Homo sapiens: one gene and its partner. The protein of the gene in region 2 purifies or fractionates together with the protein of the main gene of each other region. This does not show direct contact. Each region holds a gene or a part of one and is shown on either strand. Other genes may lie near its edges.

Evidence for each region. Proteins that work in one complex are often made in the same cells at the same time.
Region 1: the proteins of NGEF (region 2) and CSTF2 purify together in Homo sapiens (affinity purification with mass spectrometry, with the first as the bait; one large-scale study listed by BioGRID). This does not show direct contact.

Annotation. Positions count from the first base shown.
Region 1 is NC_000023.11:100,826,889-100,830,476, reverse strand, and holds part of CSTF2 (cleavage stimulation factor subunit 2), read right to left. Parts: intron 2,438-3,588; coding exon 2,375-2,437; intron 1-2,374. UniProt on the Homo sapiens protein: One of the multiple factors required for polyadenylation and 3'-end cleavage of mammalian pre-mRNAs. This subunit is directly involved in the binding to pre-mRNAs.
Region 2 is NC_000002.12:233,006,595-233,010,380, reverse strand, and holds part of NGEF (ephexin-1), read left to right. Parts: intron 1-3,786. UniProt on the Homo sapiens protein: Acts as a guanine nucleotide exchange factor (GEF) which differentially activates the GTPases RHOA, RAC1 and CDC42. Plays a role in axon guidance regulating ephrin-induced growth cone collapse and dendritic spine morphogenesis.

The DNA.
Region 1 (3,588 bases), on a different chromosome or scaffold from region 2:
TATATAAAAAGGATAGTTTTGAATCTTCTAGTTATGCAAAGAACATAAATGTAGTTTCAGAAGCAAAACATAAAAGAAACTGCACTGAATCTGGAAGGCAAGATTCATTCTGAAACGGCCATAACTGAAGTACGGCAATTCTATTTTTGTCACATTTTAAAGCACAAAAATTTCTGCTGTCAAAAATGTATCAGATGGGGAAATGCAGTGAATGAACTTTACATGATGAAAGAGAATATCACTCCACAAGAAATACTCTGCCACAGCAAGTCTTTGATAATAAACATCATGACAACAGCAAACAAAGACTAATGAGATGACATGGGAACCGACACTAAACAAACATGGCAGGGAAGCAAGAAGTATCTTCTCAAACATCTCCATCTCCTTTCAGCATTAAAAGCAGCATGGATTTCAGGAAAAGTAAGACAAACTAGGCACACACGAAAAGACTCTTGCTTCCTCTGCTGGGTACTGAAGGAAACTATAAAAGAAAGCTCATCTCACTTAGTCTCTGCATGAAGACATCCTGGAAATACCCTCAAAACATGAGTCACTTCCCTTTGCCAATTTCTGACAAAAAGGTGAAGATAACTATAATAGGAAGATGTCTTGTGCAAGTATGCGTTAAACAGCTAAAACCTGATGGATTGAGGGCTGGCCCCATGACAGGCAGAAGTATGACTGAAACCCTAATACCTTCTCATTACTGCAGAAATACTCTGGGGAACATATATGATCTATTGACAGTGGTGCGGTGGGGATAGAGGGATGTACAATAGCACAAAAGCATTGGATGCTTAGAGAAAATATGAGATATTTGGCCAGGGAGTTTGTCCTGCTGTCAGACTTCTAACAAGAAAAAGTTAATTCTGTCACTTCAGCAACCAACCCCAGTGTAAAAACCACAGGCTTGTATATTAATGTTTATGTATGTATGTGTGTATATATATGTGTGTGTGTGTGTATATATATATATTCTTTGAGACAGGGTCTTGCTCTGTTGCCCAGGCTGGAGTGCAGTGGTGCCCGATTATGGCTCACTGCAGTCTCAACCTGTTGGGCTCAAGTGATCCTTCCACTTCGGCCTCCCAAGTAGCTGGGACCACAAGTGCACACCACCATTGCCCAACTAGTTTTTGTATTTTTTATAGAGACGGGGTTTTGCCATGTTGTCTAGGCTAGTTTCAAACCTCTGAGCTCAAGCAATCCACCCACCTCAGCCTCCCAAAGTGCTGGGATTACAGGCATGAGCCACTGCGCCTGGCCAATATTTTGCTTTTTAAATGGGTTCCACTTATAAACCATATGCTACAAAAGAAAAAACCTTAAGCTTCTCTATGCTTGTCCAAAGCAGTCTTTCCCATCATTTTATTCCCAAGGAATAAGAGTAGAAGACACTGAAGAATATGCTTGGAAGTTAACAGAGGCAGTGTGGAGTGACAGAAAGAGGACAGATTCTGGAGTCAAAGACTTCTGAATCTTAGCTCTGCCACTTACTAGTTGGAAGAGAAAATAAGAGCACCAAATCCAGTCCACATTACTCATACATTAATATTTACTTACCTTGTCCCCTTGAGAAAGTAACTTATTCTGAGCTTCCAACTCTTTGCCTGTAAAACTGAGGTGCTGCCACCTAACTCACAAGATTATTTATGAAAATTAAAGTGCCTGGCATATAGTATGCACTCAGTTCCTTCTCTTTTCTTACGATCTCTCCTCCTAACATTGTTTCCAACTGAACCACTGCACTTTCTTGTCCTTCAAACTCCAGTAACATGAAGAAACAACATGGAGATTTTGGAGCAGCAGCTACTGTTGTATATAGCAGTACAGCCACGGTACAACATATGTTCATTAAGTAGGCGTTACAGACCTATGATTCCCTCCCAGTTTTCTCTGGGGTTTAAATCTAGTCTTCTACATACCCAGCCACATATTTACATGCTCATTATTAAAATTCCTTACTCAGTCAACAGATATCCATACAGGGAGAGAGAACATGTCAGTGGAATTATTAGACTAGGAATCAGGAAACAAACGATCCACTTGCTTCATTATCAATTCTTGTAGAGCTGGACTCTGAATCACCAGGTGGAAAGTCTAGACCAGCACTGTCCAATAGATCTTTTTACGATGATAGAAATGTTCTATATCTGTAATGTCCTGTATGGTATCCACTAGTCACCTGTGGCCACTGAGCACTTGGAATGTGGCTATTGTGACTGAGGAACTGAGTTTTAAATTTTACTTAATTTTAATTAACTTAATATTGAAATAGCCATGGGTGGTTAGTGGCTGCCATATTAGATACTGTGGATGTGGAACACTTCCATGACCAATTAACATTAGTCAGACATTAATATTTATTTACCTTGCCCCCGTTCCATGGACACTGGTCCACTTCCTGGCATTCCAACCTGAGCCTGCATTCCTCCTAGAAGATAAAGGGCAGACAAGAAAAAACACCAATTAGAACAGCGGAAAAGAAAAATTAGAACAGTGGCTGAGTTTACAAATTTCCTCATTCTGCTCCACAAGCAGAAACCTACAAAGGAAGATATTCAACAATGCAATGAGAGAGAAGATGGGGTTTGTTAGTATATTTACAATTTGTACTTTATGTTTCAGTGACAGAATAGTGAGTTCAATAAGAATAATTCATTTCATTGGTTACCAAACTCTTGGCAGGAAGCTCTTCTATAATACAGGAAAACAATGTCACTTACCCATGGACCTCCTGTCATGAAAGATAATTTAAATACAAGTATAACTCTATTAGGATAAAGTAGATACATAACAATCCTAAAGTAGATACAAAAAATTCCTGAGTTTGCAGAAATTTCTTCAAAAAATCTCTTCTTCCATTCCTCATCAACTTAGCTCTGCAGACTGGATTCTCTACAGAACAGAACAATTTAGAATTAAATCATTCTCCATGAGTAGTGTTGTACTCAACCTACCCTAGATTAGATAAATTAACAAAAACCAAGTTTGTTACATAAAAAAACTTTAAATATTGGTAATACATCATGTGTTCATACAGATGTTTCATATGGGGAATCATTATTTCACTCAATCTTCTTAGTTACAATTGTTGAACAAGGAACAGTTACAAGTATATGAGCAATACTCTTATTAATTGCCGATCTATACATTTTCAATAAATGTACATAGCTTTTAAATTTCTCTTTTTCCCTTTTGTTGTTTGTTCTGATTATGTTTGTTAAAATACAATTTTATGTCAGTTTAATATGCTATAACAAATGTGACCTTGTATTTTTTTGTCTGTTTTCTTCATGAGCTTTTGAACCTAATCTGACAGTTCATTCATATTTAGCAGAGTAACAACTACATTAGTTTTTATTCCTTCCATCTTACTCTACATTTATTATTACTTATTTTACACTGTCTCTTACTTTTTTCCTCTTCTCTATTTTTGCTGGCTTGATTTTGTTTCCACTCATTCCATTTTCCCCCTTGTTAACTTGGAAGTTTTACTATGCTCTTTCACTTTACTGTCCCTTTCCCTGTTCTTATAATTAGACATACAGGATTTAACGTAAGAAATCTACTATTTCCTCCACC
Region 2 (3,786 bases):
AGGTAGTAATTCTTTTCACACTCACTCAGAATGAATGCTCCAGGTTCTCTAAATAGCATACGTTCACAGATAGCACATTCCAGGTGAAGGGACAGCAGGGTTTTAGCAAAAGGGAGGGAGCCCTGCAGTAAGGGTTGGGCCAGTGGAGGCAGAGACAGGGGAGGCATGAGGTCTGTTTAAAAGATGCCAGCTGGGCGTGCTGGCTCACACCTGTAATCCCAGCACTTTGGGAGGCTGAGGCGCATGGATTACCAGAGGTCAGAAGTTCAAGACCAGTCTGGTCAACATAGTGAAACCCCATCTCTACTAAAAATACAAAAATTGGCATGGTGGTGGACCCCTGTAATCGCAGCTACTCAGGAGGCTGAGGCAGGAGAATGGCTTGAACCCAGGAGGCAGAGGTTGCAGTGAGCCAAGTTCACGCCATTGCACTACAGGCAAGGTGACAAGAGGAAGACTCCAATTCAAAAAAAGAGAGACAGGACAGGTGGAGTGGAGGGAAGGTGGAGGGGATGGCCCAACCCAAGATGCCAGGACCCCAGAGGTCCACAGAGATGAGAGTGGGGGTCTGGATGGCCAGCGTGTCCCATGGGAAATTCATCCCTCACTTCTGCACCCTGCACCTGGTGGCTGTGCCTCAGTTGCCTTCACTTTGGGCTGGAGCTTCATGCACCAGCACCATGTCTCCCAAAGCTAGAAGCTCTGACCTCCAATCATCCAGGAGTTTTACTTTTTTTTTTTTTCTGTAGAGATGGGTTCTCACCATCTTGCCCAGGCTCATCCCAAACTCTTACACTCCAGCAATCCTCCCACCTTGGCCTCCCAAAGTGCTGGGATTAGAAGAGTGAGCCACTGCACCTGGCCCCAAGTTGCTGATGAGTTTAAAAATGGGTATATGAACCGGGTGCAGTGGGGTGTCCTGTAGTCCCAGCTACTCTGGAGGCTGAGGTGGGAGGATCGCAAATTCAGATCCAGCCTGGGCAAAATAGCAAGACCCCCATCTCTAAAAATAAATAGATCAATAAAAAGGAGTTTTGGGCAGCAACATGGATAGAAGTGGAGGCCATTATGTCAAATGAGATAAACCAAGCATAGAAAGACATATATCTCGTGTTCTCACTCATATGTGGGAGCTAAAACTGTGAAGTGGGTCTCATGATGACAGACAGTAGACTGCTGGTTACTGGAGGCCAGGAAGTGGAGCAGGGACGCAGGGATGAAGGAGTGAAAAAGAATAAAGATACTTATTGTCACTGAACTGCACACTTAAAAATTATGAAGATGGGCCGGGTGTGGTGGCTCACACCTGTAATCTCAGCATTTTTGGAGGCCAAGGTGGGCAGATCACTTGAGGCCAGGAGTTCAAGACCAGCCTGGCCAACATGGCAAAACCCTGTCTCTACTAAATATACAAAAATTAACTGGGCGTAGTGGCACCTGTAATCCCAGCTACTCGGGAGGCTGAGGCAGGAGAATCACTTGAACCAGGGAGGTGGAGGTTGCAGTGAGCCAAGATCAAACCACTGCACTAAGCCTGGGCCACAGAGCAAGACTCCGTCTCAAAAAAGAAAAAAAAAAAAAGATGCAGATGGTAAAGTTTTTTAAAAAAAGGAAAAAGAAATATCTATTGAAAAACTGAAAAGAAACAGAGGTGCCAATTCACTATTAGTTAATGAGTATGTTTCCTACCAGAGACAAATCCTTCAAAATATAGGCTCTGCAGAAGGGCAAGCAACTTGGACAGTGCCCTTCAAGGGATGAGAGAAGCTTGGGAACCACAGAGGCAGTGACAGGGGATATGGAAGGCAAGCTGGGCCTAAGGCCCTTGACCCCCAGGTCCCGCCCCAAAGTGGCCAGGGTCAGTCCCAAGGTGCTGACTTTTGGAGTGTTGCTCTATCTTATGTACAAGTTAGTGCAACCTGCTTGTATCAGTCTTTCAGGCTACATGACAGTGAACTCCATGAAGGCCAAATCCCTGGAGAGTACCTCATGCAGCCCATCAACAAGCAATTGCTGGATGCAATTGCTCTCTGGGCCCAAAGTGAAAAGATGGCAAAACTGCCTGCTCCTCTCCCAAGCTCTCCACCATCATTTCAGACCCCCACAACTGCCTCCATACCCTTTACCGCAATCCACATAAGCAGATCAAGAAAACTCAATTTCCTACTCTCAGCTGATACACTCAGTGTTGCTGAGCGAAAATAGATTCCTATTAAATCCCACCAATGGGGTGAAAAATTTCCAAGTATTTGAAGTTTTTAGAACCCTCACATATGGGTTTTATTTTTCAGGATGCTCCCAAGTCATAAATCCACTCATGAGAGTGAGGACAAAGATCAAGACAGTTTTGCTCTCATCTGAGTGAGAAAAACATTCCTTGGTGGATTCTTGAGCGTTGGAGGAAAGCCTTCCTTTCTGCCAAGTTCCTTTTTAGGAAATTAGCTTTGGACTTTAAAATGATTTTAAAGTTGTTTCTGGATTGAAAAGGGCATCTGGCGCCTGGACAACTTTTCCTGGTGCCTGAGATATCAGAGCAGTCACTTGCAACTTTCTACAGATTTCTGGCCTCTTTGGAAGCATTCCTAAATCAAGAGCAAAGTCATTCGCCATTGGCCACCTTGGGTTCCAAGTCAAGGGTAAGAAATGGAGCTCAGGGTCATAATGAAGTCGTTTGGATGCTCAATCTAAAATCAACAGGCTCATCTAGGCTGTGTTTGGGAAAACATTATTATAGCTAATTTGTGTATTCATTGGAGAAATATCACAGAAAATGCCAAAATTAAGTAGCATGCATAGACAGCCAGCATCTTCTCATGTGAGCAGTGCTAGGGTCCTGCCAGGTTAAAAGCCCCCGGTGTGCATCCTCCTCCCTTTCTCAGCCTTCACTAGGCACCAGTTTGCGCTGCTCTTCTCTGTGAGTTGTCCCCACTGGAGACCCACGATCAGCCTGAGCAGGGCTCAGACACAGAGCTACCTGGCGGCTACCTGGCGGGCCAAAGGGTTCTTCCTAGAAACCTAGGCTGGGCCATTATCTACCTTTGTTCCCCCTCCAAATACTCTGTGATCGTTAAAGCTGTTTTCTTGAGAAACGCTATTTGCTTTAAAAGTTAGAATTGTATTTATTTATTTATTTATTTGAGACAGGGTCTTGCTCTGTTGCTCAGGCTGGAGTGCAGTGGTGGGATCATGGCTCATTGCACCCTTGACCTCTCAGGCTCAAGCGATCCTCCCATCTCAGCCTCCCAAGTAGCTGAGACCACAGATGTGTGCCATCACATCTGGCTAATTTTTGTATTTTTTGTAGAAATGGGGTTTCTCCATGTTGACCAGGCTGGTCTCGAACTCCTGGACTCAAGTGATCAGCCCGCCTCAGGCCCCAAAGGGCTGGGATTGTATACAAGCATGACCTACCATGCCTGGCCCAACATGTTTTAAATTAAAGGTGGTGAGAAACAGTTTAGAAATCATGTTTTTAAGCACTTTGCTGGAGCTGGGCTGCCTGGGTTTGAATCCCGCCTCCACCACCTGCTAGCTGTGTGACCTCGGATGAGTCGGTTAACCTCTCTGACCCACCATGCTCCATGTCCTCCTCTCTAAAAGTGAAAGAAATAGGACAAGTACAGTAAAGATCATACAGGATCGCCATGAGTGTTCAATGAGATGGTGCACAGAAAGCTCTTGGCCCTTGCAAAATTTTAGCTATTATTTTCCTGATATGCCATGAGAAAGAAAAAGGATCACTTTTTCCAATACAACAGTTAACTTTCAGCAGCATTTATTAGTGAA